7 linked regions of the Homo sapiens genome follow. The protein of the gene in region 6 purifies or fractionates together with the protein of the main gene of each other region. This does not show direct contact. Each region holds a gene or a part of one and is shown on either strand. Other genes may lie near its edges. The genes, in order: JAG2, ITGA7, CTBS, CNTNAP3, POGLUT3, LILRA5 and GUSB.

Region 1 (3,500 bases), on a different chromosome or scaffold from region 6:
GCCCCAGCCCCCTCCTCTGGGCCCCACCTGGAAGGAGCCAGGGCTGGGCTCAGGGGTCAAGAGCACACCAGGGGTAGACTGGGGGGTTCCTGGGCAGTGAGGGCTGAGAGGCTGTGGAATGTGGGTACCCAGTGCTGGGTAGTACAGGGCATGTCCCGGGGGTCCCACCTGTCTGAGCATGTCTGTGAGTGACGGTCTCCGTGGGCTGCACTAGGCGGAGCAGGGGGCCAGCCCTGTGGTCTCTTTGCTTGGCTGACAGCATCGCCTGTCGCCATGGCTGGGGTACAAGGGCCAGGTGGCCCGGGGGCAGAGGGGGCATAGTGGCCATGGTCTGAGGCTGTGCTGGGCAGTCCCAGGACCTCTTGGCCTCAGTTTCCCCAACTGTACCGCAAGGGCCCCTCCTGCCACCTGTTCTGTGTGAGGGTGGAGGTAGGTGTGGGTTTGCCTGTGTGCTGTATGCCTGCAGGACCTGAGCTCCGGCCTGTTGGGGCCTCTGGCTGGGCGCCCTGTACTTGGCCACCCCGTGCACTTGGTGGAGGCCGCCAGCGTGGTGATGGGGCCCCACGTTCTCCCCCGTGGTCACCCCCAGTGAGGCACCAAGGGGCGTTCCACAGGAAACGCTCGGGTCCCGGCTGCCCATGGGGCCCCTGTCTGTGGCCACTCCAGCCAGGCTGCCCTTTGCCCACCTCTCCCCCCGGTCGCTCTTCCTGTGCTCCGTGCTGACTTGAGCCAGCTCAGGGCAGGCTGGGCCTCTGGCACCCCAACGGTAGGGAGCCCAGGCCCCTGAGCCCGCGTGGCCTGGAGGGGCAGTCTCCCTCCCTTGAGCTGGGTCATTTTTGGGTCTGCAGAGGATGTGGCCTGAGGATGAGGAGGGTGGTGGGTCCCTGGCTGGGGAGGAAGGGCCAGAGCCTGGCAGACCCAGGGGCAGCGTCTGAGCCCTGGGCCTTGTCCCACCCTGAACGAGGCAGGCAGGTGTGGCCTCAGGTACCTGACCCGCCTCCCCATGTCTGCAGCGCTCCTTTACCCTCATCGTGGAGGCCTGGGACTGGGACAACGATACCACCCCGAATGGTGAGTGAGCCCTGGGCCAGGTGGCAGCTCCTCTCAGCTTCAGCGTGCCTGTGGCAGGGCCCAGCTCCTCTGTCTGCTTGGGACAAAGCCTTGCTTTACCCTGAGGATCATGTGTGCTGTTTCCCTTTTTGCTTTGGCTGCCAGGAAGCTCTGCCACGTTTGGGACTTGCAGAGCTGTGCATGCACTCTCTTCCCCAGTCCTGGCTTTGCCTATGTTGTTCTCCTCTTGGGTGTGCTCTTTTGGGGCCCATGGCAGTGACTTAGTGGAGGGGACACCCTTGAGTGTGTCTCTGGCTTTGTGGCCCCCTCTGCTTGTCTGTACTGGAGCATGGAGCCTTGGTGGCCCTCTCCCTGAGGCAGGGGCTCTGCAGGGCCCTGCAGGGGTAACGGGATGACTTCCATGGGTGAATGCAGAAGCACCCACAGGCCAAGGGAGCAGCTCGTGTGAAGGTCTGGGCAGGAGCGGGCTGGCTGTGCAGGGGGAGCAGCCGGGGCTGGGCTCAGATCATGGAGGCTGGCAAGCCACTGAGAGGACACGGGCTCCGCCTGGCAAGCTGTGGCTGCCTTATGGAGGGTGGGCTGTGGGGCCAGGACACAGACCGAGGAGGAGCTGCCACGTGAATCTGGGCGTGTCAGGGTGACTTGGACCAGGGGCAGTCTGGGGGTGAGAGGGGCTCTCAGAAGTGGAGGCATGGGGTTGGCCAATGGGTTGGAGGAGGGAGAGCGGGGCCAGGGCATCCTGGCTGCCAGCAGAGTGGAGGGGCTGTTTTCAGGGCAGGGACGGCGGTGGGGGTGCCCAGGTGGGGAGCAGCAGTTGTGGGGACCCCAGCGGCTCAGGGCAGGGGTGTTTCCTGAGGGGGTGGCAGAGAGACAGGTGGGCTGAGTCCCAAGCAAGGTCGTCAGGGCTCTTGACAACGTGAGCCTGGAGAGGCTGGGGCGGCCGGGACGCCCCTTGGGGAGTGGGCCAGCACAGTGTCCTCCCAGGCCTTGGCCCGAGGCGGGAGAGGTGGGGTCTGGAGGACCCGTTCACCTTTTATTGTGCAAAACGTCGAGCCTGTGCCTAAGCGCAGGGACCGGCATCACGGACTTTGCATACCAGCGCCAGCAGCTGTGGTGCCCCTGGCCCCTGGTCTCCTGGTGGCTTACTTAAAGTGAGGCTTAGACAGCGGGTCACGGGACCTATGCCTGTCTTGGGGGCCTGAGGGGAGGCTTGTCTTAAGGTGGGGACGGTAGTGGTGTTTGGCACTTCTGGGAGCAAGTCACAGCGCAGGAGAGGGGAGGGCAACTGAGCACCATGTCCGTGCTGTCGAGGGCTGGACACGGCGCAGGTGGGTGCAGGTGTTGGAGCAGGGCTGCAGGTGGGTGGGCACAGGTGTGGGACGTGAGACTCACGCCCTGGCAGCAGCCGTGCCTTCTCTGTGGAGCCTGTGGTCTCAGCAGCCCTCCCTGCAGGGCCCCTAGCCCCTAGCCGGGCCCCCCGACCCTCTGCGTTTAGGGTGGGAGCGGGGCGCAGGCTTGGTGGCGGGAGGGAGAGGCCTCTCGGGGCCCTGAGCTTTCTGTAGCAGCCTGGCCGGGGGCCCTGCCCTCCGTGTGCTGCTGCCTGCTGTGCCCCGGCCTTGCAGCAGCCGCAGGCTTCTGCCCCGTCCCCGTTGTTCCTGGAGGACCCCTGGCCGGGCTGGTTTCTCTGGCCTGTGCTGACTCTGCCGCCTCCCCAAGAGGAGCTGCTGATCGAGCGAGTGTCGCATGCCGGCATGATCAACCCGGAGGACCGCTGGAAGAGCCTGCACTTCAGCGGCCACGTGGCGCACCTGGAGCTGCAGATCCGCGTGCGCTGCGACGAGAACTACTACAGCGCCACTTGCAACAAGTTCTGCCGGCCCCGCAACGACTTTTTCGGCCACTACACCTGCGACCAGTACGGCAACAAGGCCTGCATGGACGGCTGGATGGGCAAGGAGTGCAAGGAAGGTGAGGGGGCCGCTGGGCTGCGTGGAGGGCAGGGAGGGCCTCGGGCAGGGCCCCGGGCACAGGCCTTGCGGCCAGGCTGGCTGCAGCTGTGCCTCTCGCTCCTCTCTGTTCGCAGCTGTGTGTAAACAAGGGTGTAATTTGCTCCACGGGGGATGCACCGTGCCTGGGGAGTGCAGGTGAGTGTGCCGCCGGCCCGTCTTTGCCCTCCCAACCTTTGCCCTCACGTCCTCACTGGCACACACAGCCTTGCTGTCAGGAGTCGCCCGGAGCTGGCTGGAGGTTGGGCACACAGCTGTGAGAGCCGGGCCCTGAGCTCGGGAGGCTCCTTAGTGCAGTAGGTGCGTGTCTGAGCATGGGATGTGTCTGATGGCGGCAGCCATGTGAGGACAGTGAGGAGAGACTGGGGAGGCTGGCTGGACAGTCACGTCACCGAGGGGCAGAGACCCGGAGGCTGCAAGCCA
Region 2 (3,500 bases), on a different chromosome or scaffold from region 6:
TGGGAATTGAACAATGAGAACACATGGACACAGGAAGGGGAACATCACACTCTGGGGACTGTTGTGGGGTGGGGGCAGTGGGGAGGGATAGCTTTAGGAGATATACCTAATGCTAAATGACGAGTTAATGGGTGCAGCACACCAGCATGGCACATGTATACATATGTAACTAACCTGCACATTGTGCACATGTACCCTAAAACTTAAAGTATAATAATAATAAAATTAAAAAATAAAAAATAAAAAAATAAAATAAAATAAAAAAGAATCTACTTTAGACATTATGTTAAGCAAAGTAAGCCAGATTCAGAAAGATAAATACTGCATTATCTCACTTATATGTGGAATCTGAAAGTTGAACTCATAGAAGTAGAGAGTAGAATAGTTGTTACCTAGGGCTGGAGTGGAGGCGGGGTGTGGCTGGGGAGATGGAGGAGATGGTGGTCAAAAGATACAAAGTTTCAGTTAGACAGAAGGAAGAGATATCTATTTAAGAGATCTAATGCACAACATGGGGACTGTAGTTAATAACAACATATTGTATTCCTGAGAATCACTAAGAGAATAGATTTTAAGTGTTCTTACCACAAAAATAAGTATGTGAGGTGATGCATATGTTAATTAGCTCAATATAGCCATTCCACAGTATATACATATTTCAAAACATTGTATTATACATGATAAATATAATTTTTGTCATTTAAATAAATAAATACATTTTAACATGAAAACAAAAAGAATCTATTTCAAAGTTCCCATTTAAAAGGGAGGCCTCTCAGAGGAAATCGGTCACGTGGAGAAGGGAGGATTATCCATGTAATAGAGCAACAGCCACGACATGGGTTCCTACATCCCCTGACGTTCTTCAGTTTGCCTCATGCCATGCTCCCAGGGGAGCTGAGGGCCCAAAGCAGGGACTGCAGCAGCTGCTGACATTCCCCTGCAAAGGGTCTCCTTGGCTCTACCTGGGGTTTACCTCCACCTCCTTACAATCAAGCCAAAGACCTCCTAATCTAAGTCCCCACCACATTCTCACTGCGAGCCCCATCCTAGCAGGGAGGGGCACAGAGCATGTGCGGATCTGCTCAATACCTTCACCTAAACAACACAACTCTGCAAAACAAGCAGAAAAGGGGAAAGCAAAACTGCTCAAAAGGGGTAAACTTAATAAATCACATATAATATACGGTTGTCTTAATTATTAGAACTTTTAGAATTTAGTGTTTTTGCTGAGCGCGTGGCTCAGGCCTATAATCCCAGCACTTTGGGAGGCCGAGGCAGACAGATCGCTCGAGGTTAGGAGTTCGAGACCAGCCAGCCTGGCCAACATGGTGAAACCCCGTCTCTACTAAAAATACAAAAATCAGCCGGGTGTGGTGGCATGCACCTGTAGTCCCAGCTACTTAGGAGGCTGAGGAAGGAGAATCGCTTGAACCAGAGGCAGAGGTTGCAGTGAGCTGAGATCGTGCCACTGCACTCTAGCCTTGGTGACAGAGCAAGACTCCGTCTCAACAACAACAAAAAAGAACTTAACATTTTTAATACTGTAAAAATCAAGCAAGTGTCCTTACACAAATTGACTTTTTTATCTTATAAGAGTTCAAAAGAACGACAAACAGACCTCAAAGTGTGAGGATGGGCTAACCCCATCCCATCACGTATAAAATGTAATGCTTTATATAAACGTAATGTGAATCAATTGCTTGGCTAACTAACTGGCTTCAGGTGGAGTGACCTGTTCTAGAGTGAGCAATTGCAGGGGCTGAGCAGGAAGGGGGTCTGCAGTGTCAGTAGCTGCCTCCCGGGCACCCCCTCCTATGAATTGTGATGGGAACATCTGGTCAACTTGCACCCAGACCATCATGTGTCTCAACAGGTACCCTTCCTGGACACGCAGCACCCCGGAGCTCTGGCTGCACCGAGTCTGGCCTGCCCTCACCAGGGTGATGTTTTTCTTCTTCTCAGCAGAGGACACTGGCCACCAGGACATGCTGGGCTCCTGCCGCTCACCAGGCTCCTGCTGCTCAGGTGGCTCCAGCTCCCGCCGCCTCCTATCCCTACTGTCCACATCCTGGACACGGAAGGGGGGTCTTAGTGAGTGTCCCTCCAATCACAGCAGTGCTAAGATCGAATCTCCTCCCCACCGCCTTCCTCCTGCCCCATCACTGCACTCACTACCCTTACTCCCCATAACATCTGTCCCCACATCTAACCCCCACCCCCACCTAAGCCTCACCAGGTGGAGGATGTTGGGCCTGGGAGAGCAAAGCCCTTTCTGCCCAGGCCCCTGCCCGCCCTCCAGCTCAACCTGCATTGGGTACAGCAACCACTTCCCATTGGCAATCTCATGAGGCCACATGATGTTGAGGAAGGCAGAGCCCAGGGTTCTGAGCGACTGGCCTTGGTTGGAAACCTGTGGGAAAAAGAGAGTATGAGGGGAGAGACCTCAGTTTTTCTTTTTTTTTTTTTTTTAATTTTTTGTAGAGACAGGATCTATGTTGCCCAGGCTTGTCTCTAACTCCTGGGCTCAAGTGATCCTGCCACCTTGGCCTCCTGTAGTGCTGTGATTACAGGCATGAGCCACCGTGCCCAGCCAAGGAACTCAGCTTTCAAGTGGATCCTAAATCCACAGAGATGGAAGGAACAAGGGCTGAAGAGAAGGCCCTCAGGAAACACAATTTCAACAAATACTCAGGATCCTAGACCCCACCAGGCACCATTCTCTCCACCCACCAAATCCGGGAAACCCTGGAAGTGTCCCTGGAAGGTGTGAGGAGAGGCCCCAGCCAAGCAAAGGCAGAGTTCTAGGGAGAGACATTAACCCCCCGCCCCATGTTCCCATCCCCCAGCTGAGGCCCACAGCAGAGAAGCTTCCCTGGACTCTCATGGCCTACCACACCAGCAGGTGAGACAGCCAGACAGAATGACCAGGAAATGGTCAAATGAGGCCCCAGCAGGAACACCTTCCCACAGCCAAGGTCCATATGCAGGACAGAGGCCTCAAACTGCATGCTGCCACATGGTAGAAGAGCCCCAGCCCTGGGGACACAGCTCAGCCTCTCCTCTGTGCCAAGGAGGGAGGGTGACCATGGAGGGGCCTCATCCCTGACACTTACCGTGACCTCATACTTGACCTTGCTGCCCACATCCCGCTCAGACTGCATGGCTCTCTCGCCCCTCACCACACCAGAGAAGAAGAGTTGCTGGGGAATGGCCATTCTGGCGTGGAGAGGTCAGAACAGGGGTGAGAAGGTCTGGGGCCTGGCTCAATGAAGGCAGGGCCCTGGCCAAGGTTTGGAAATGTCAATGCCCCCTCCCTCCAATGGAGGTGCCCCCTTGGGCCAGGCTCACCCTGCAATGGACAGTGGCAGCTCAATGAAGACACGGGCTCGTGCAGAGACTGGATGCAGCTCCTGCTCACTGATCCTGGTGAGTGGGCAGGGGCAAGTATGGGCATCAGGCACAGGCACCTCCCAAGGGGTCAGATGAGGTCAATATGA
Region 3 (3,500 bases), on a different chromosome or scaffold from region 6:
AAACAGTAAATGTATTTATGGCTCCATCTGCAGTAGCCAGAAACTTGAGTATTATCAGACTTCTCTCCTTTGATTACTCATTCGATTAGTCACAAAGTCCTGTCAATTTTGCCTCCTTAGGATCTTCCAGATCTGTTCACTTAACGCCACTGCTCCACAATTTTAGTTGAGGTCACCATCATCTCTTACTTGGATTCCTCCAACAGTTTCTGTATTCTGCCTCCAGTTTTGGTGTCTCTTTAATCCTTTTCCCACTGCAGCTGAAAATATTTTTCTAAAATGCATACCTTCCCCTTTTAAAAATGCTTTTATTCTCTCCCTTTACCTCAGGATAAACAAGGTAGTACTAACTTCTCAACAGAGCTTATGAGGCCTTTCATGATTTAATCCATGCCTACTACTCTCTGGTCCTTCACTAATGCTCTCTCCCCAAATTCTAGACGTCGGCCATACTAAATATTTAGTTACGCAACCACCATGTTGTCTCTGCCTCCAGGCCTTGGCACTTGCCACTCTTCCTTCCTGGCCCATCCTTCCCCTCTTTCCCAGCCTGGCTAATTACCCCTGCCACCAATTATCTTGGGACCCCTATGTCTTATGCACTTGTACTCTCACTGCCACCATAGTGTTTGGTGTATGGTGATGTTTGATGAACGGTATTTTGGACGGTCAGCATAATATTCTTGGTTTAAATGATGGTGCTCATCTTTGTTCTGGCAGGTCTTTGTGTTTGATGTTGGACAGAAAACTTGGAAATCTTATGATTGGTCACAGATTACAACTGTGGCAACATTTGGAAAATATGACTCAGAACTTATGTGCTACGCTCATTCAAAAGGAGCCAGAGTAGTACTTAAAGGTATGTTGTTTCCAGATCTATGTGTGCAGCAATTGGGAAATTTATCTGTATCACTTGCTATAGTCCCGACTTTCCAAAAAAGTCCTTTTATGTTTATCTGTTTTTGTTAGGATCCTATAATTAATCTTAGATACTGTGTAATTCATTTCACAAACACAGATCTTTTTAAAAGAATTAAACCACTGTATGGTTTTGAGCAAAATGTTAACTGCCAAATTAGCCTTATGACCTTTACTTAATCATAGTCCACAATTTCTGTTTCTAACTTCAGAACAATTTTACTAATGATTTATAATGGTTATTTTGGAGATTCATGAGTAATGGCTTTCTGTTACTTTGGTATATTCTTTCTCCATTGGAAAACTTCAGTTAAGGGCTTAGTCTTCCAAAATAATGAAATGTTTTTGCATACATGTTCAAAAGATATATACTTCTTCCACAGGAGATGTATCCTTAAAGGATATCATTGATCCTGCTTTCAGAGCATCCTGGATAGCTCAAAAACTTAATTTGGCCAAAACACAATATATGGATGGAATTAATATAGATATAGAGCAAGAAGTTAATTGTTTATCACCTGAATATGATGCATTAACTGCTTTAGTCAAAGAAACTACAGACTCTTTCCATCGTGAAATTGAGGGATCACAGGTAAAAACTCATTTATTTTTTGGAAACCTCATATTTTCCATATCAGAATATACTCATGAGGGTATAACTAATATAATCTTTGTTTTATAGTAATGCAATGGGAAAGAGTTTCAGCACTTATTTCCTAAAAAATTTTTCTGGAGCCTTTGGTGTTCTTATTTAAGGAATTTTAAAGCCCTAAATCTATTCTCTATTCACAGCAAAATACAACACTGGGATTACCCCCACTACTTGCCTTGTAGCACAGTTAGAAGTGTTAGGCAATGGGAGAACAAAAATCAAGGGGGGCGCCTAACCAGCTTTTACCAATGCAGGACAGAAACAACCCAGGAGTAGAGGTAGTTCTGGGGAAGTGTATCACTTGCTCTACAGTCTCTGAATTACTTGCACCCAAGGCCCAGTAAAGCTTAAAGGACTAACTACACAGAACTGTGACAGCTATAACAATAGGCAGTGTGCTTCCCCACTGCCATAATGAACATGATTAGAGCAGAAGGTAACAACACAAGCTATCTTGCCAGACAACAGATGGGTAACAGAGGATAATGTGAACCCAGATCAGTGATCCTCAAACTTGGCCACATATCAAGATAACCATAGGTCTTAAGGAAAAGTAAGCATGTGTTTACTTTTCCACACACATGCACACTGTGAACTCACTCCCAGAAATGATTTTTCAAAAGGTTTTGGGTAATCCCAGAGCCCCCAATTTTAAAAAAGTTTCATTGGTGATTATAGTTAAGAAGTAATAGGCTAGACAATGAGTTTTTTTGAAGACGGGGTGCAGCTCCTTGATATCTAACAGAATGCTTAAAAATGTATTCCAGTATAGAGCATTATGAGTATTATAAACCAGTGATTCCTAAACCTGTCTCAGAATTACCTGAGAGTGCTTGTTTAAAATATCCTGAGTGTATTAGTTTGTTCTCACATTGCTATAAAGAAATACCTGAGACTGGGTAATTTATAAAGACAATAGGTTTAATTGGCTCACGGTTCTGCAGGCTATACAGGAAGCATAATGCTGACATCTGCTTGGCTTTTGGGAGGCCTCAGGAAAACTTACAGTCATGGTGGAAGGCAAAGCGGGATCAGCACTTCAAACAGCCAGAGAAGGAGAAAGAGAGAGGGTGGGGAGGTGCCACACACTTTTAAACAATCAGATCTTGTGAGAACTCTATCACGAGAACAGCACTGGAGGGGGAAATCTGCCCCTGTAATCCAGTTACCTCCTACCAGGCCCTACCTCCAACATTGGGGATTACGATTCAACATGAGATTTGGGCGGGGACACAGATCCAAACCATATCACTGAGATTGACTCAGTAGGTCTGGGATAGAGCTTAGAGAACTGTATTTTTGCCAAGTGTCCTAGGTGATTCTGGTAGAGTTGGTCATCATGAATTTGAAAATTACAGGTAAAATAATTTGAGAATTACTGGTAAAATAATAAGCAATATGACGACTGACATTTCTGTGGTTTTATGCAAATAGGGAAGATCTGTCAGTATGGAATTCAACTTGTCAGGAGAGTACAATGTAGATTAAGAACAGCAAATACCTGGCATACAGGCCACAATACCCCTTCTCCTCCTCACACATTTTGGCCTCAGAAACTTTTCCTTCATTCTCTAGATAGTGATTACTAATAGGTTAGAATTGATGTGTGGAATATATGGGAAACAACCTATTTGACAATCCTGATTAAGCTGTAGTGAAAGAGCAGAGAGGAAGAGATTGAGCAAAATCCTTGCAGTAGGAATATCTCTTTCTGTCTCTTGAGAGGTGAGGAGAACAATTTGGGCTACATGTCAAGTTCATGTTAGGTGAATTAGTGGGAGGGACAGTTGCAAAGGTAGGCCAGATTGTGGAAGATCCAGAATGTCAGGCTGAGGACTGTGCATTTTATTCTGTGTGTAATGGGTTATGTGTGTAAAATAGTGTTTGGGGAAACTATTCTGTAGGAGTATGTAAAACTAGATGAGAAAGG
Region 4 (3,500 bases), on a different chromosome or scaffold from region 6:
TCAATCAGAACATTTCTTCTTGACTGTTTTTGTAATTCTGCCAAATGGGAAACAGTTTTCATGACAAGAAAACATTTGCAGAAGAAAATTTAAAAAAGAAAACATTTGCTGTAACAAACTAAATACCAAAAGCTTACAAGTAATTGGCACTGATCCATAGTACACATGTAATCACTGGACTATTACATATTTTTTATCTTTTTATCAGCTGTATATTTCTTGACCTCATCATTTAGGTGGGTAGCTGCCTGCTACAACAGAGAGGCAGGGCTTCTTGCCACAGAGGAGTGCTTGTTAGTTGACTGAATGAATTCTGGCAACTGATTTTCCCAACAAAATACATTTTTAAATGTTTTCCTTTTATATATTGGAACAACTATTTTCCTGTTTTTATACAGAACACATAGAATTGTAGTAATTCTTAAAATGGAATTCCCATAATTAACATTATATATCCATATGCACAATTTGGAATGAATTGTCTTTTTGTTTTTGTGTGAAACTTACACATTTTAATAACCTCATTCAATGTAATTAGTAAATAGTTTTCTTGAGGATGATATCCAGAACCCAGAGATACCAGCTTAATTGTGGTTCTCCTTATTGGCTATACTCAATAATTCCATCAGTGAACCCATCAGTAATTCAGAATAACATGGAATGTATATGAAAACCTGTGTCTGTTGTCCTCAAATAGTCTTGTCTCTTTGTGTCATAAGGCCCAACTCACTCTTCCTCACTTCAATGACAGTGTCTTTGTAAATAGCCCCATAGAAGTTAGGGTGAGGAGGAGGGATTCTTCTGAACACCAAGGACTGGCAGATAAAAGGTAGCTTAATATTCAGAACGTGTTAGGTCAGGCTTCTTGACACGGATGCCCATTGGCCAAACCCATCTTTGTATCTGTATCTGAGTAACGCATCTCCAACAAAGCCAACTTCAATAACCAGGTCTTTTTTCTTTTTCCTGTTGAGCAGCACTTAAATGTCAGTTTCTCCATGGACAGAAACTTTAGGTAGAGGGCTGTTCCATTTATCTCCTTCCTCTTTTCATTTCTTTTTCATCTTGTCAAAGGAAACTGCACTCTGTGGAGCCTTGTTATCACTCTTCCCTTTGGTGTTTCCTTTTTCATGTATCTTGATGGTATTTTTCATTTTTATGATCTCAGCAGGGTGCTGTTCATAGTAAAACTTAGACTTCAAACCCATCTTTTTTTTTTTTTTTCTCCTTTACCTTCTTGGAAAGTTCATGGGCTTCACAGCTGTTTTTCCCTTTTTCTCATGCTAACCTAAGTGATGTATTCATTGTGTGGTCTGGTGACACACAGTCAGAGATATTTTCAGGTTTTGGTCCTGCAACCCATGAGCCAACTCCTCCAGCACATAACAGGAAAGAAAACATGTTCCCAACAATACAAATAAATATTCCCATGATGTGCTGCTGAGATACACTGACAACTAAACATGAGCTTTCCCTTTAACCCCAACTTGGATATTTCAAACTTTAAACATTGAAAGAAGTTTATTAACTGATTTGGAAGTATTTCCAGTTGATTAGGGAATAGATCATTAGGGATTGCCATTGCAAAATGATTGGTCTCCTGTGGATAACAACACCAAAAACACGTGAGACATATGAATTCTGATTTCCATGTAAAAATAGAAAGTTATTTTATTTCATATAAAAATGAAACAACGATGTCCCATGAGGCATATTTACTTTATAACTTTTTATGCATAATAAAAATTACTATATTAGGCTGGGTCAAGGTGGCTCGTGCCTGTAATCCTAGCATTTTGGGAGGCCGAGGCAAGTGTATCGTCTGAGGTCAGGAGTTTGAGACCAGCCTGGCCAATGTGGCAAAACCCTGTCTGTACTAAAAAAAATTAGCCGGGTGTGGTGGCACACACCTGTAGTCCCAGCTACTCGGAAGGCTGAGGCAGGAGAATGGCTTGAACCCAGGAGGCGGAGGTTGCAGTGAGCCAAGACTGTACCGCTGCACTCCAGCCTGGGCAACAGAGCAAGACTGCATCTCAAAACAAAAACAAAAACAAAAACAAAAAAAGTGCGCCTGTGGTCCTAGCACTTTGGGAGGCCGAGGTGGGCAGATCACGAGGTTGGGAGATCGAGACCATCCTGGCTAACATGGTGAAACCCCGTCTCTACCAAAAATATAAAAAATTAGCCGGGCATGGTGGTGGGAACCTGTAGTCCCAGGTACTCGGGAGGCTGAGGCGGGAGAATGGCGTGAACCCAGGAGGCAGAGCTTCACTGCACTCCAGTCTGGGCGACAGAGTGAGACTCCGTCTCAAAAAAAAAAAAAAAAAAATTGGCCCAGGCCCAGTGGCTCACACCTGTAATCCCAGCACTTTGGGAGGCCGAGGCAGGCAGATCACCTGAGGTCAGGAATTCGAGACTAGCCTGGCCAACATGGCGAAACCCCGTCTCTACTAAAAGTACAAAAATTAGCTGGGCATGGTGGCGGGCGCCTGTAATCCCAGCTACTCAGGAGGCTGAGGCAGGAGAATTGCTTGAACCTGGGAGGCGTAAGCTGCAGTGAGCTGAGATTGCGCCGCTGCACTCCAACCTGGGAGACAAGAGGGAGACTCTGTCTTAAAAATAAATAAATAAATAAAACTAAATTACTATATTACATGGGCAGCTGTTAAAGTAAGAACTGATTCTTAAAATATTAGATGAAATGGAGACTTCACATGAATAATTTTTAAATGCAAAAAATAAAATGTCCTTTTTTCTTTCCTTCCCATTAGGCTTCCTTACCATCATGAGGATCTGTGGTTTGTGTTTCTTGGCTAATTCGGTAACATCCACTCCATTATAATAAAGATTTTCTAAACACCCATGAAAGCTTTTACGTCTGAATGCCCGCGATCTTCCGGGTGTCGGAATTCCCCCAAAGCTGATCTTAGAAAGAAAAATGACATAAATAACATTGTTTAGTGATTTTCTGATGGTACGTGTTTAAAGCATTTATAATTAATAGGTCTAGTACTAACTGTCACAAATCCATTCCCATTATCTTATATTTGCATGCTTGCTTATTCCAAATGAAGTGTTCTATCATAATGACAGCTGTTAATACCTTTATTTCTGGCACCACACAGTTTTGAACAAACTTAAAAGGAAGAAGTCAACACACATTTTCTGCCACATTGAAATTTTCAGCCATGTAGTAAATTTACCCTTTGTGGGTCATATGATCTCTTTTGCAGCACTCAACTCTGACACGAAGTACCAATGTGGCCACGGACAATACATAAAGAAAGAGAACATGTTCCAATAAAACCTTCTCTTTTGAACAAAAACAGGCTTTGTATTTTTTTAATTAAAAAATGTCCAAACTTGGCCTGATGCCCATAGTTTGCCAACCTCTGCATTAGATATTATCTTTTGCTATTACATGGTTAAATTAAAGTAATAAAACTGAATAATCCGGTATAGGACTAGGATCTTCAGTTTAATATTATATGCCAAAGCCA
Region 5 (3,500 bases), on a different chromosome or scaffold from region 6:
TGGGGAACAAATAAGGTAAGCCCTACAATTCCTACAGCCTACTGCTTAAGGGAGCTTTGAGGTTGTAGTACAGGGAGGGGGACTGTAGGCAAAGCCAGGCAGCCTCACTGAGTTGAGGAGACAGAGCTGGCAGTCCAGGGAGACCAAGGCAGCTCTAGACTTTGTAGGACAGAGTATCTAAAAAGGAAGCACTGCACAGAGAGAACGTTAGAGATCTATAGAAGGTCCTCTTCACATATTGAGCAGAGCATATGATCAGTGCATTTTGGATGGGTTCTTCCCCTGTATTGATTCTAAAAATAATACAGTTTAATTATTTAGGTATAACATTTAAATATTTAGAATGATAATGACAAAGGATGAAAACAGATTTCAGGCTGAGAAATGGACATCTAAGATATTTGCCACCTGAGTGTTCATATGTTCTTGGGGAAGACAGGGGAAGAACCCATCCAAAATGACCAGAGAGAACAGTACTTATCGGTGGGTACCAGCCAGATTGGAAAGCCTCCTAATTCACAGGGCTTGGGTAAAGTATGCAGAAGGGTATTACCTCAGTAGCGGGGAATAATTAGCCCTAGACTACACATGGCTCTAGTCCCACCTAACAAACTGTAAAAGCAAAACTTGGAAGGATTAAACTATTTCCCAGTGATTTAACTGCACCCCAGAAAAGAGCTCAAGAAGATGAAAAAGCATCAAGAGGTGAAAACTACACTGTATAGGATTGACAACAGATCGTACATTGCAGAAGAAAAGAGAACTTAGAGACAGTAATAGAAACTATACGAAATGAAACAAAGAGAAAAAAGAATTTAAAAAATGAAAAGGGTATCGATGAACCACAGGATAGTTTCAAGCCCAATATATGGGTAATTAGTATCCTTGAAGGTAAGGTGGAATGGAACAGAAAACATATTTGAAGCAATAATGGCCATAATTTTTCTAAATTTGATGAAATTTAAATCACTTGGATGGTTTAAATTCCAAGAAGTTCCACAAATCCAAAACACAGGAAACATTAAGGAAACTGCACCAAGGCACATAATAATCAAACTTCTCAAAAGAACTGATAAAGAGAAAACCTTAAAAGCAACACAGATGAACAAAGATAAGGAAAATGCTAGATTTATTGTTAGAAGCAATGCAAGTGAGAAGACAGTGGAACCACATCTTTAAAGTATCAAAAGAAAAAAAACCCATCAACCTATAACTATAACTAGAGACAATGTCTTTTAAAAACAAAGGCAAACTAGGCCGGGCATGGTGGCTCATGCCTGTAATCCCAGCACTTTGGGGAGCCGAGGCAGGGGGATCACTTGAGTGCAGGAGTTTGAGATTAGCCTAGGTAACATAAAAAGACCCTGTAGAAACAAAAAAATGTTTTGTAGAAACAAAAAAATATTTTTTAATTAGCTGGGCATGGTGGTATGTGCCTGCAGTCCTAGCTACTTGAGAGGCTGAGGCGGGAGGTTTGCTTTAAACTAGCAGTTTTTGTTTCTGTTTTATTTCGTTTTGAGACAGGGGGTCTCACTCTGTCCCCCAGGCCAGAGTGCAGTGGCACGATCACAGCTTACCGCAGCCTCGATCTCCCTGAGCTCAGGTGATCCTCTTACCTCAGCCCCCTGAGTAGCTGGGACTACAGGTATGTGCCGCCACACCCAGCTAATTTTTTGTAGAGATGGGTTTTTGCCATGTTGCTCAGCGTGGTCTTGAATTCCTGGGCTCAAGTGATCCTCTGGCCTTGGCCTCCCAAAGTGCTGGGATTATAGGTGTGAGCCACTGCACATGGCCTAGCCCAGCAGTTTAAGGTTGCAGTGAGCTTTTTTTTGAGATGGAATCTCGCTCTGTCACCCAGGCTGGAGTGCAGTGATGTGATCTTGGCTCACTGCAACCTCCACCTCCCGGGTTCAAGCGATTCTCCAGCCTCAGCCTCCCGAGTAGCTGGGACTTCAGGCATGCGCCGCCACCATGCCTGGCTAATTTTTGTATTTTTAGTAGAGACGGGGTTTCACCATGTTGCCCAGGCTGGTCTTGAATGCCTAAGCTCAAGCCATCCACTCGCCTCAGCCTCCCAAATTGTTGGGATTACAGATGTGAGCCACCACGCCCAGCCTGCAGTGAGCTTTGACTGTGCCACTGTACTCCAGCCTGGGCCATAGAGCAAGACCCTGTCTCAAAGTAAACAAAAAACAAATCAAACAAACAAAAGGCAAAATAAAGTTTTTTCAGACATTCAAAAGCTGGAAGAATTCATCACCAGCATTCTCACAGTAAAATAAATATTAATAAAAATCCTTTAAGCAGAAGGCAAATGTTACTAGATGGAAATATGGATCTACACAAAGGAATGAAGAGTTTCGCAAATAGTAACTACATGGATGTAAATACACAAGATTTTTTTCTTATCATTTAAATCTCTTTACTTAATTTTCTTTCCCTTAAAATTTAAATTGAGCTCCAGGAGGTATGTATACAATGTTTACTTTACTGCACATGACTTTGAGGTCATCAGGTTTAGGCCATTCTGAAAGGCATGGGACCTACACACAAGGCTGACTCTGGAGTATATAATAATCACTTACCTTTCAAAATATAGGGAGACTGAGCCACATGTTCATCACCATAAAGGACCTCTATCTTCAGGCCTTCATCGACAGTTTCATACATCCTATATCTCATCAAAAATGTTCCATCATTCCTGTCCAAAGGTTTAGGGACATGTATCCGGACCAACTCTTTAGGTGAAAGAGATTTGACTACGACTTTGAATGGTGTTTCACCTAAAAGGAAAAGAAATATAAACAACTCTACCATGTCATGATAATGATTTACAATTATTGGATAGGTGTTATTGGATAACTTAAATATGTTGCTTTTTCCTGCAGCATTGGTGGTTAAAAAAAAATCATTTCCTTTGGAAGATCTTTGAGGCCAGGAACTGTCATGTCTGGTTCATGCATTCTTTTTTTTTTTTTTTTCTTTTTTGAGACAGGGTCTTGCTCTGTCATCCAGCTAGGAGTGCAGAGGCAGAATCCTAGCTCATTACAGCTCCAACCTCCTGGGCTCATGAACCTCCTGCCTCAACCTGCATCAGCCCCATGAGTAGCTGGGACTATAGGAGTGTGCCACCATGCCCAGCTAATTTTTGAAATTTTTTGTAGAGATGGTGGGGGGCGGGATGGGTTGGAGGGGGTCTTGCTGTGTTGCCCAGGCTGATCTCAAACTCCTGACTTCAAGCGATCCCCACTGCCTCAGCCTCCCAAAGTGTTGGGATTACAGGCTTGAGCCACAGAGCTTGGTCTGGTTCATGTATTCAAACCACGGATCAGACTCAACATTTGAATCATTAGTCATTCAATAAAGATTTACTGCATGAACAAAAGCAAATCATTTTTTAAAAGCAAATAAAAAATAAACTTTTTGCTTATTTGGTCTTTCCTCCTTTGGGTAGGATTAAAGCCCAAATAGTTAAAAATCCATGGACTCTAAGCATGACA
Region 6 (3,597 bases):
CATGGTGGCATGCGCCTGTAGTCCCAGCTACTTGGGAGGCTGAGGAAGAAGAATTGCTTGAACTCGGGAGGTGGAGGTTGCAGTGAGCCGACATAGTGCCACTACACTCCAGCCTGGGTGACAAAGCGAGACTCCGTCTCAAAAAAAAAAAAAGAGCGAATGGGGCTTGAAGGCTACAGACAAGAGGTTAGGACGCCATTTTGGATTTATCTTTTCCTGGAGGGCATCTGATCTTCTCCCATGGATTTAGTTACTGGTTCAGGTGTGGAACTCTGAACTGAAGAGATGGAGGCTCAGTAAAGCACACAGGGAGTGTGATAATGAGAATTGAAGTGGACTGTGTGACACGCCAAGGACCAGAGCATGCAGGTGTGCAGAGATGTGGACCCAACGCTGCCTGCCATGTGGGATGTAGCCTCATGTCTCGGGCTGGGAAGAGAAGGGAATCCAACCAAGGGAAGTCAACATTAATAGAAAGGAAAGGTGTCACATTTTAATGGTCCTCCATGGATCACCCCAGACCAGTGTCTCTGCACTCAAACACCCATTCCTCCCTCTAGAAATTGCCAGAGGCTGAGGCAGGAGAATCACTTGAACCCGAGAGGCGGAGGTTGCAGTGAGCCCAGATTGCGCCACTGCATTCCAGCCTGGTGACAGAGCAAGACTCCATCTCAAAAAAAAAAAAAAAAAAAAAAAAGAAAGAAAAGAAAAGAAAGAAAAAAAGAAATTGCCAGCAGACAGTCCAGATGGCATAGGCCTCAGATGGTCTTCCCGAACCTCCTAGGACCATCAGATTCGCTTCCAAGGCTCCAGCATTCAATGGTGCATTGTTCTCTCTTCTGTTCACCTTCCAGCTGCAGCTTGGGGGCTTCTCTGGCTGTGCCAATCCTGAAATATCAGAATCCCAAGGACCACCAGGATCAAGCCGGCCATGCCCATGCGGATGAGATTCTCTACTGCGTAATCCTGAAGGTGTGAGGCTGGGGATGGTGGACAAAGAGGTCACAGAGGTCAGGGCAGATCAGTATCACCCAGGACCCCTGGATGTCTCCCCAGGGCACCCATATCATCTTGACAGGACCTGACCCTCTGTGCCAGTTCCATAACTGAGAGCATCTCCTCACTCACCAGTCCCAGAGTCAGACTTGTTTTGTGACGGACTGAGGTTATCAGCTGCTCCTGAAAATCAAAACAGGGGAAGGGGAAGGAGAAGTTCTTGAAGCAATCTGAGCCCAGCCTCTCCCCTGAGCTCTGCATTCTCCTAGTTCCCTGTGCCTCTCAACATGACTTTTATGGAGTTCCTCCATAAACCCTCCCTCTGCTGGAGCAGGGTTCCCTCCAGTCTCCTCACTGAATTATTTCAGCTTTCCTTTGTTCTTTGAATTTAAACTTTGCTCCTGAGTCATTTGGGAAAGAGCTTTCCTGCACCGTGAAAGCTCAGGATCTGCAAGGAAAGTGGCCCCCAGAAGTCACTGAGCCCTTTGTGCTCTCTGTGCAGCCTGGGACACAGGAGCACATAAGCCAATTCCCCCAGAGATGAGAGTTTCACGGATCCACCAGCTGAGGACCCAGGCTCCATGGATGACGGGTTGGTCCTCAGGGGCTCCTGAAAGTCAGAATCACAAACAGCTGCCTCCCCTTGACGCCACCTCAACCACCTCACCTGGTGTTTCATCATACAATAAGTCTCTAGTCAGCTAACTATTCATATAGTCAGTCATATATATATACGTATGTATATAAATGTGTGTGTGTGTGTGTGTGTGTATATATATGTATATATAAATATATATATATATATATATATATATATATATATATATATATATATATATATATGGTGTTACAGAGGCTCATAAAACAATTTCTGCTTTTAGGGCCAGGCGTGGTGGCTCATGCCTGTAATCCCAGCACTTTGGGAGGCCAAGGCGGGCAGATCACGAGGTTAGGAGTTCGAGACCAGCCTGGCCAACATGGTGAAACCCCGTCTCTACTAAAAATAAAAAAATGAGCCGGGCATGGTGGCACCTGCCTGTAATCCCAGCTACTTGGGAGGCTGAGACAGGAGAATCACTTGAACCTGGGAGGCAGAGGTTGCAGTGAGCCCAGGTCATGCCATTGCACTCCAGCTTGGGCAACAGGGCAAGAGACTCCATCTCAAACAAACAAACAAAAATTTCTGCTTTTATAAAGTGTGAGTCTAGGTGAGAAGACCAATAACAAACATGTAAAAGCCCTCCATGTCAAATACATTAAGCATGTAGATATACGTATAAAAAATATATGCAGATATACCTACACTTATATTCAGATGTAACTTATATAACCATACATAAATATGTATATATGTAAAACTTTAGATATTTATTTAAGATGCAGTTACATGCATATTAATACTTGAAGTGACAAAAATTGATATGCGGTTTAGAAATAAAAAATAAAATTTCAATTTTCTTATAGTTAATATAAATTTTATCAGTAAATTTGGGGAGATCAGTTGAAAGATAATTGAAAGGGAAAAATGTTATAGCAAGCTAAAATGAAATTAAATGAATATACTCAAACTAAAAGCTTTCTCATGTGTATATCTTACTTAGAAATATAAATGAATCAGGCTGGGCATGGTGGCTCACGCCTGTAATCCCAGCACTTTGGGAGGCCTAGGTGGGTGGATCACGAGGTCAGGAGATCGAGACCATCCTGGCTAACACAGTGAAACCCCATCTCTACTAAAAATACAAAAAAATTAGCCCGGCATGGTGGTGGGTGCCTGTAGTCCCAGCTACTCGGGAGGCTGAGGCAGGACAATGGCGTGAACCCAGGAGGCGGAGCTTGCAGTGAGCCGAGATCGCGCCACTGCACTCCAGGCTGGGCGACAGAGCAAGACTCCATCTCAAAAACAAAAACAAACAAACAAACAAAAGAAATATACATGAATCAAATACTTCACTTAAGAATAAAGTAGTTGAAGAATTTTTTAAATTAGACTAAATGTACACATTCTTATGAACGGAACTTGAAAACACTTATTAACTTCATTAATAAACTTCAATTTTATATATTAATAATAGAAATACTTGCTATTAACAACTAATTTTATACAGCAAATGTAAATATTGAATTATGCCCCCAGGACAATGGGAGTGGAATTACTTGTTTTTAAATCATAAATCCATATATCTTAAAGAGACAAATTTAAATATTCAAATATTGTTTTAAAAGATTCAGAAGAAGAGAGAAAAAATAAACAAGTATGCCCAGAAAATGCAGAGCAGCAATGAACAGCAGACAAGACGTGCTGTGAATAAGTTCCTAACTTCCTCCAGGGAGCAGGTGCGCGGCCCCTCCTTTGTCTCAGGGGTGCCCTGAGCACAGAGGCCTCCAGGTGAGCACAGGAGGGGCGGTGTGAGTGGTACCCACAGCTGGGGCGCTTCTCTCTAAAGGAGCAGGTCTGGCGTGGACTCCAGCCTCATCACCGTCAGATCCCACCGAGGCCTGAGCAGCCTCCTCCCCTGTCCTGAGTGGGCTCAGGGACCCCGCAGGTGTGGGTGAGGGGCTCCATCCTCAGGGGCTCTTGGAAATGAGAAGTGAGAGCTG
Region 7 (3,500 bases), on a different chromosome or scaffold from region 6:
TTGACCTCGCTAGGAGAAGAGGGGTCTGGCCTAACGTCACACAGCTCGGGGTGGCAATCCTGTCCCTTCTCTATGGTGCTACTCTCACTCCATCTCCCCTTGCTACACATCGTGCTCAAGGAACAGGCAGCTTCGGTGGGGGGGGCGCCGGGCATGGTGGCTTATGCCTGTCATCCAGCACTTTGCAAGGAGGCCCTGGTATAAGGATCACTTGAGGCCAGTAGTTCAAGAGCAGCCTGGGCAACATAGTGAGGCCATCACCACAAAAAATTAAAAAATTAGCCAGGGATGGTGATGTGTGCCGGTAGTCCCAGCTGCTGAGGCAGGAGAATCACTTGAGCCTGGGATGTCAAGGGTGCAGTGAGCTATGACCACACCACTGCACTCTGGTCTGGGCAACAGACGCAGACCCTGTCTTTCTTTTTTTCTTCTTTTTTTTTTTTGAGCTGGAGTCTCGCTCTGTCGCCAGGCTGGAGTGCGATGGCGTGATCTTGGCTCACTGCAACCTCTGCCTCCCGGGTTCAAGCGATTCTCCTGCCTCAGCCTCCCGAGTAACTGGGATTATAGGCACCCGCCACCACGCCCGGCTAATTTTTCTATTTTTTTTTAGTAGAGACAGGGTTTCACTCTATTGGCCTGACTGGTCTTGAACTCCTAACCTCAGGTGATCCACCCTCCTCGGCCTGCCAAAATGCAAGGGTTACAGGCGTGAGCCACTGTGCCCAGCTGGGATACCCTGTTTTTTTTGTTTTTGTTTTTTGTTTTTGAGATGGAGTCTTGCTCTGTTGTCCAGGCTGGAGTGCTGTGGCGTGTTCTTGGCTCACTGCAACCTCCGCCTCCCGGGTTCAAACAATTCTCTTGCCTCAGCCTCCTGAGCAGCTGGGATTACAGGCGTGTGCCACCACGTCCAGCTAATTTTTGTATTTTTAGTAGAGATGGGGTTTCACCATGTTGGCCAGGCTGGTTCAACTCCTGACTTCGGGATCCACCCGCCTCAGTCTCCCAAAATGCTGGGATTACAGGAATGAGCCACAGCGCTCGGTCTGTATTTAAGAAAAATTTTTGTTTTAAGTTTTTTTTCTTTTTAAAAATATATCTTTTTCAGGGCGGGCGCGGTGGCTCATGCCTGTAATCCCAGCACTTTGGGAGGCCAAGGTGGGGGGATCACGAGGTCAGGAGATCGCGACCATCCTGACTAACATGGTGAAACTCCGTCTCTACTAAAAATGCAAAAAATTAGCCGGGCATGGTGGCAGGGGCCTGTAGTCCCAGCGACTCGGGAGGCTGAGGCAGGAGAATGGCGTGAACCTGGGAGGCAGAGCTTGCAGTGAGCTGAGATTGCATCACTGCACTCCAGCCTAGGGGACAGAGCGAGACTCCATGTCAAAAAATAAAAATAAAAAAATATATATATATCTTTTTCTTTTTCTGAGATGAGGCTTGCACTGTGGCCCAGGCTGGAGTGCAGTGGTGAGATTATTGACAGCCGTTGTGGGGCCGCGGTTCTAAGTTTAAAAGAATTTAGGCTGGGTGTGGTGGCTAATGCCTGTCATCCCAGCACTTTGGGAGTCCAAGGTGGATGGATCGCTTTAGCTGCAAAGTTTGAGACCAGCCTGGGCAACATACTGAGACCCTATCTAAGAAAAAAATAAATAAATAAAATAAAATAAATGAATAAAAAAGAATTTAAAAAAGAATCCCACAGCAAAGACAATGCACCATAGAGCAATTTATTGCCAAGGAAAGGTATTTTGGAAGTTAAGTTTAGAACAGCCTGGGTGCACTGGCTCATGCCTGTAATCCCAGCACTTTTGGAGGCCGAGATGGGTGGATCACTTGAGCTCAGAAGTTCAAACCAGCTTAGCCAACATTAGCTGGACATTGTGGTGTGAGCCTGCAATCCCGGCTACTCAGGAGGTTGAGATGGGAGAATTGTTTGAACCCGGGAGGTGGAGGTTGCAGTCAGCTGAGATTGCAACACTGCACTCCAGCCTAGGTGACAGAGTGACACCCCCATCTCAAAAAAAATAGTGAAGTGCAAAATGCACAGTTCACCCTGAGACACAGAATTCAGGACAGGCTGCTCGTAAGGATGAGACAGCACCGATTATTACTGGGGAAACTCCCTTTCTGGGAGTCTTCCGTGATGAATTCCTAAGGAGCTGGGAAGAGGTGTTACTGTAAGCACGTTCTGGGCCGTCCTCTGGTTGCACATGCGTAGTAGCTGTACATGCTTGTTCACACGTCACGTGTCTCAGTGCCGTGGTTGGCATGTCTGAGGGACACGGTCACTTCCTTGACTACCTATCCTGCCTCAAGATCATAGCTCACTGCAGCCCCGAACTCCTGGCTCAAGCAATCCTCCCACTTCAGCCTCCCAAGTAGCTGGGGCTGCCGGGGCTGCAAGCACGCACCACCACGACCGGCTGATTGTTTGTATTTTTAGGGAAGAAGTGGTTTCCCTATGTTACCCAGGCTGGTCTTGAACTCCTGGTCTCAAGCGATCCTCCCACCCCAGCCTCCTCAAGTGTTGGGATTACAGGTGTGACCACTGCACCTGGCCAAAATCTTTTTTTAAATTAAAAAAAGCACCGGGTGCGGTGGCTCACACCTGTAATCCCAGCACTTTGGGAGGCCAAGGCGGGTGGATCACCTGAGGTCAGGGGTTCAAGACCAGCCTGGCCAATATGACAAAACCCATCTCTACTAAAAATATAAAAATTCGCCAAGCATGGTGGTGCACGTCTATAATCCCAGGTACTTGGGAGGCTGAGACAGGAGAATCACCTGAACCCCAGAGGTGGAGGTTGCAGTGAGCCGAGATCATGCCACTGCACTCCAGCCTGGGGGACAGAGTGAGACTCCGTCTCAAAAAAAAAAAATAAGAAATTAAATTTAAAAAAAGCAACAGAAACAAATGGCTGCCTGGCAGCGGTGGCTGCAGGGCGCTCCTGTTTGTGTGACTCAGGTCGTGTCCCTCCCTCAGCCCTGGTCTCTCTTGTTTCTTGCAGGGCTGGTGAATTACCAGATCTCTGTCAAGGGCAGTAACCTGTTCAAGTTGGAAGTGCGTCTTTTGGATGCAGAAAACAAAGTCGTGGCGAATGGGACTGGGACCCAGGGCCAACTTAAGGTGCCAGGTGTCAGCCTCTGGTGGCCGTACCTGATGCACGAACGCCCTGCCTATCTGTATTCATTGGAGGTAATGGTGGTTTGGGACATGCCTAAGGGAGGTCTTTTGCCCCCATGTGGTGACCCTGGCTTCAGCAGGAGCCCAAGACAGGTGGATGGGCAGGCATGGTCCTCTGAGCTTTCTGATGTTTCTCACCCTTGGTGGGAGGCCCATTTTCTTTTTTTTTTTTTTTTTTGAGATGGTCTCACTCTGTCACCCAGGCTGGAGTGCAATGGCCTGATCACAGCTCACTGCAGCCTTGAACTCTCAGCCTGCAGCAGTCCTCCTGCCTTGGCCTCCTGAGTAGCTGGGACTACAGGCACATGCCACC

Evidence for each region.
Region 1: the proteins of LILRA5 (region 6) and JAG2 purify together in Homo sapiens (affinity purification with mass spectrometry; one large-scale study listed by BioGRID and IntAct). This does not show direct contact.
Region 2: the proteins of LILRA5 (region 6) and ITGA7 purify together in Homo sapiens (affinity purification with mass spectrometry; one large-scale study listed by BioGRID and IntAct). This does not show direct contact.
Region 3: the proteins of LILRA5 (region 6) and CTBS purify together in Homo sapiens (affinity purification with mass spectrometry; one large-scale study listed by BioGRID and IntAct). This does not show direct contact.
Region 4: the proteins of LILRA5 (region 6) and CNTNAP3 purify together in Homo sapiens (affinity purification with mass spectrometry; one large-scale study listed by BioGRID and IntAct). This does not show direct contact.
Region 5: the proteins of LILRA5 (region 6) and POGLUT3 purify together in Homo sapiens (affinity purification with mass spectrometry; one large-scale study listed by BioGRID and IntAct). This does not show direct contact.
Region 7: the proteins of LILRA5 (region 6) and GUSB purify together in Homo sapiens (affinity purification with mass spectrometry; one large-scale study listed by BioGRID and IntAct). This does not show direct contact.

What each region holds. Positions count from the first base shown.
Region 1 is NC_000014.9:105,155,277-105,158,776, reverse strand, and holds part of JAG2 (protein jagged-2 isoform a precursor), read left to right. Parts: intron 1-1,013; coding exon 1,014-1,071; intron 1,072-2,787; coding exon 2,788-3,039; intron 3,040-3,154; coding exon 3,155-3,215; intron 3,216-3,500. UniProt on the Homo sapiens protein: Putative Notch ligand involved in the mediation of Notch signaling. Involved in limb development.
Region 2 is NC_000012.12:55,690,905-55,694,404, forward strand, and holds part of ITGA7 (integrin alpha-7 isoform 2 precursor), read right to left. Parts: intron 3,427-3,500; coding exon 3,352-3,426; intron 3,220-3,351; coding exon 3,117-3,219; intron 2,414-3,116; coding exon 2,237-2,413; intron 2,072-2,236; coding exon 1,940-2,071; intron 1-1,939. UniProt on the Homo sapiens protein: Integrin alpha-7/beta-1 is the primary laminin receptor on skeletal myoblasts and adult myofibers.
Region 3 is NC_000001.11:84,567,941-84,571,440, reverse strand, and holds part of CTBS (di-N-acetylchitobiase precursor), read left to right. Parts: intron 1-720; coding exon 721-859; intron 860-1,301; coding exon 1,302-1,510; intron 1,511-3,500. UniProt on the Homo sapiens protein: Involved in the degradation of asparagine-linked glycoproteins. Hydrolyze of N-acetyl-beta-D-glucosamine (1-4)N-acetylglucosamine chitobiose core from the reducing end of the bond, it requires prior cleavage by glycosylasparaginase.
Region 4 is NC_000009.12:39,173,168-39,176,667, forward strand, and holds part of CNTNAP3 (contactin-associated protein-like 3 isoform 1 precursor), read right to left. Parts: intron 2,926-3,500; coding exon 2,782-2,925; intron 1-2,781.
Region 5 is NC_000011.10:108,488,385-108,491,884, forward strand, and holds part of POGLUT3 (protein O-glucosyltransferase 3 isoform 1 precursor), read right to left. Parts: exon of another isoform or gene 2,818-3,500; coding exon of another isoform or gene 2,784-2,817; coding exon 2,586-2,783; intron 1-2,585. UniProt on the Homo sapiens protein: Protein glucosyltransferase that catalyzes the transfer of glucose from UDP-glucose to a serine residue within the consensus sequence peptide C-X-N-T-X-G-S-F-X-C. Can also catalyze the transfer of xylose from UDP-xylose but less efficiently.
Region 6 is NC_000019.10:54,306,570-54,310,166, forward strand, and holds the end of LILRA5 (leukocyte immunoglobulin-like receptor subfamily A member 5 isoform 1 precursor), read right to left. Parts: intron 1,180-3,597; coding exon 1,129-1,179; intron 981-1,128; coding exon 844-980; 3' UTR 501-843; downstream 1-500. UniProt on the Homo sapiens protein: May play a role in triggering innate immune responses. Does not seem to play a role for any class I MHC antigen recognition.
Region 7 is NC_000007.14:65,975,714-65,979,213, reverse strand, and holds part of GUSB (beta-glucuronidase isoform 1 precursor), read left to right. Parts: intron 1-3,011; coding exon 3,012-3,199; intron 3,200-3,500. UniProt on the Homo sapiens protein: Plays an important role in the degradation of dermatan and keratan sulfates.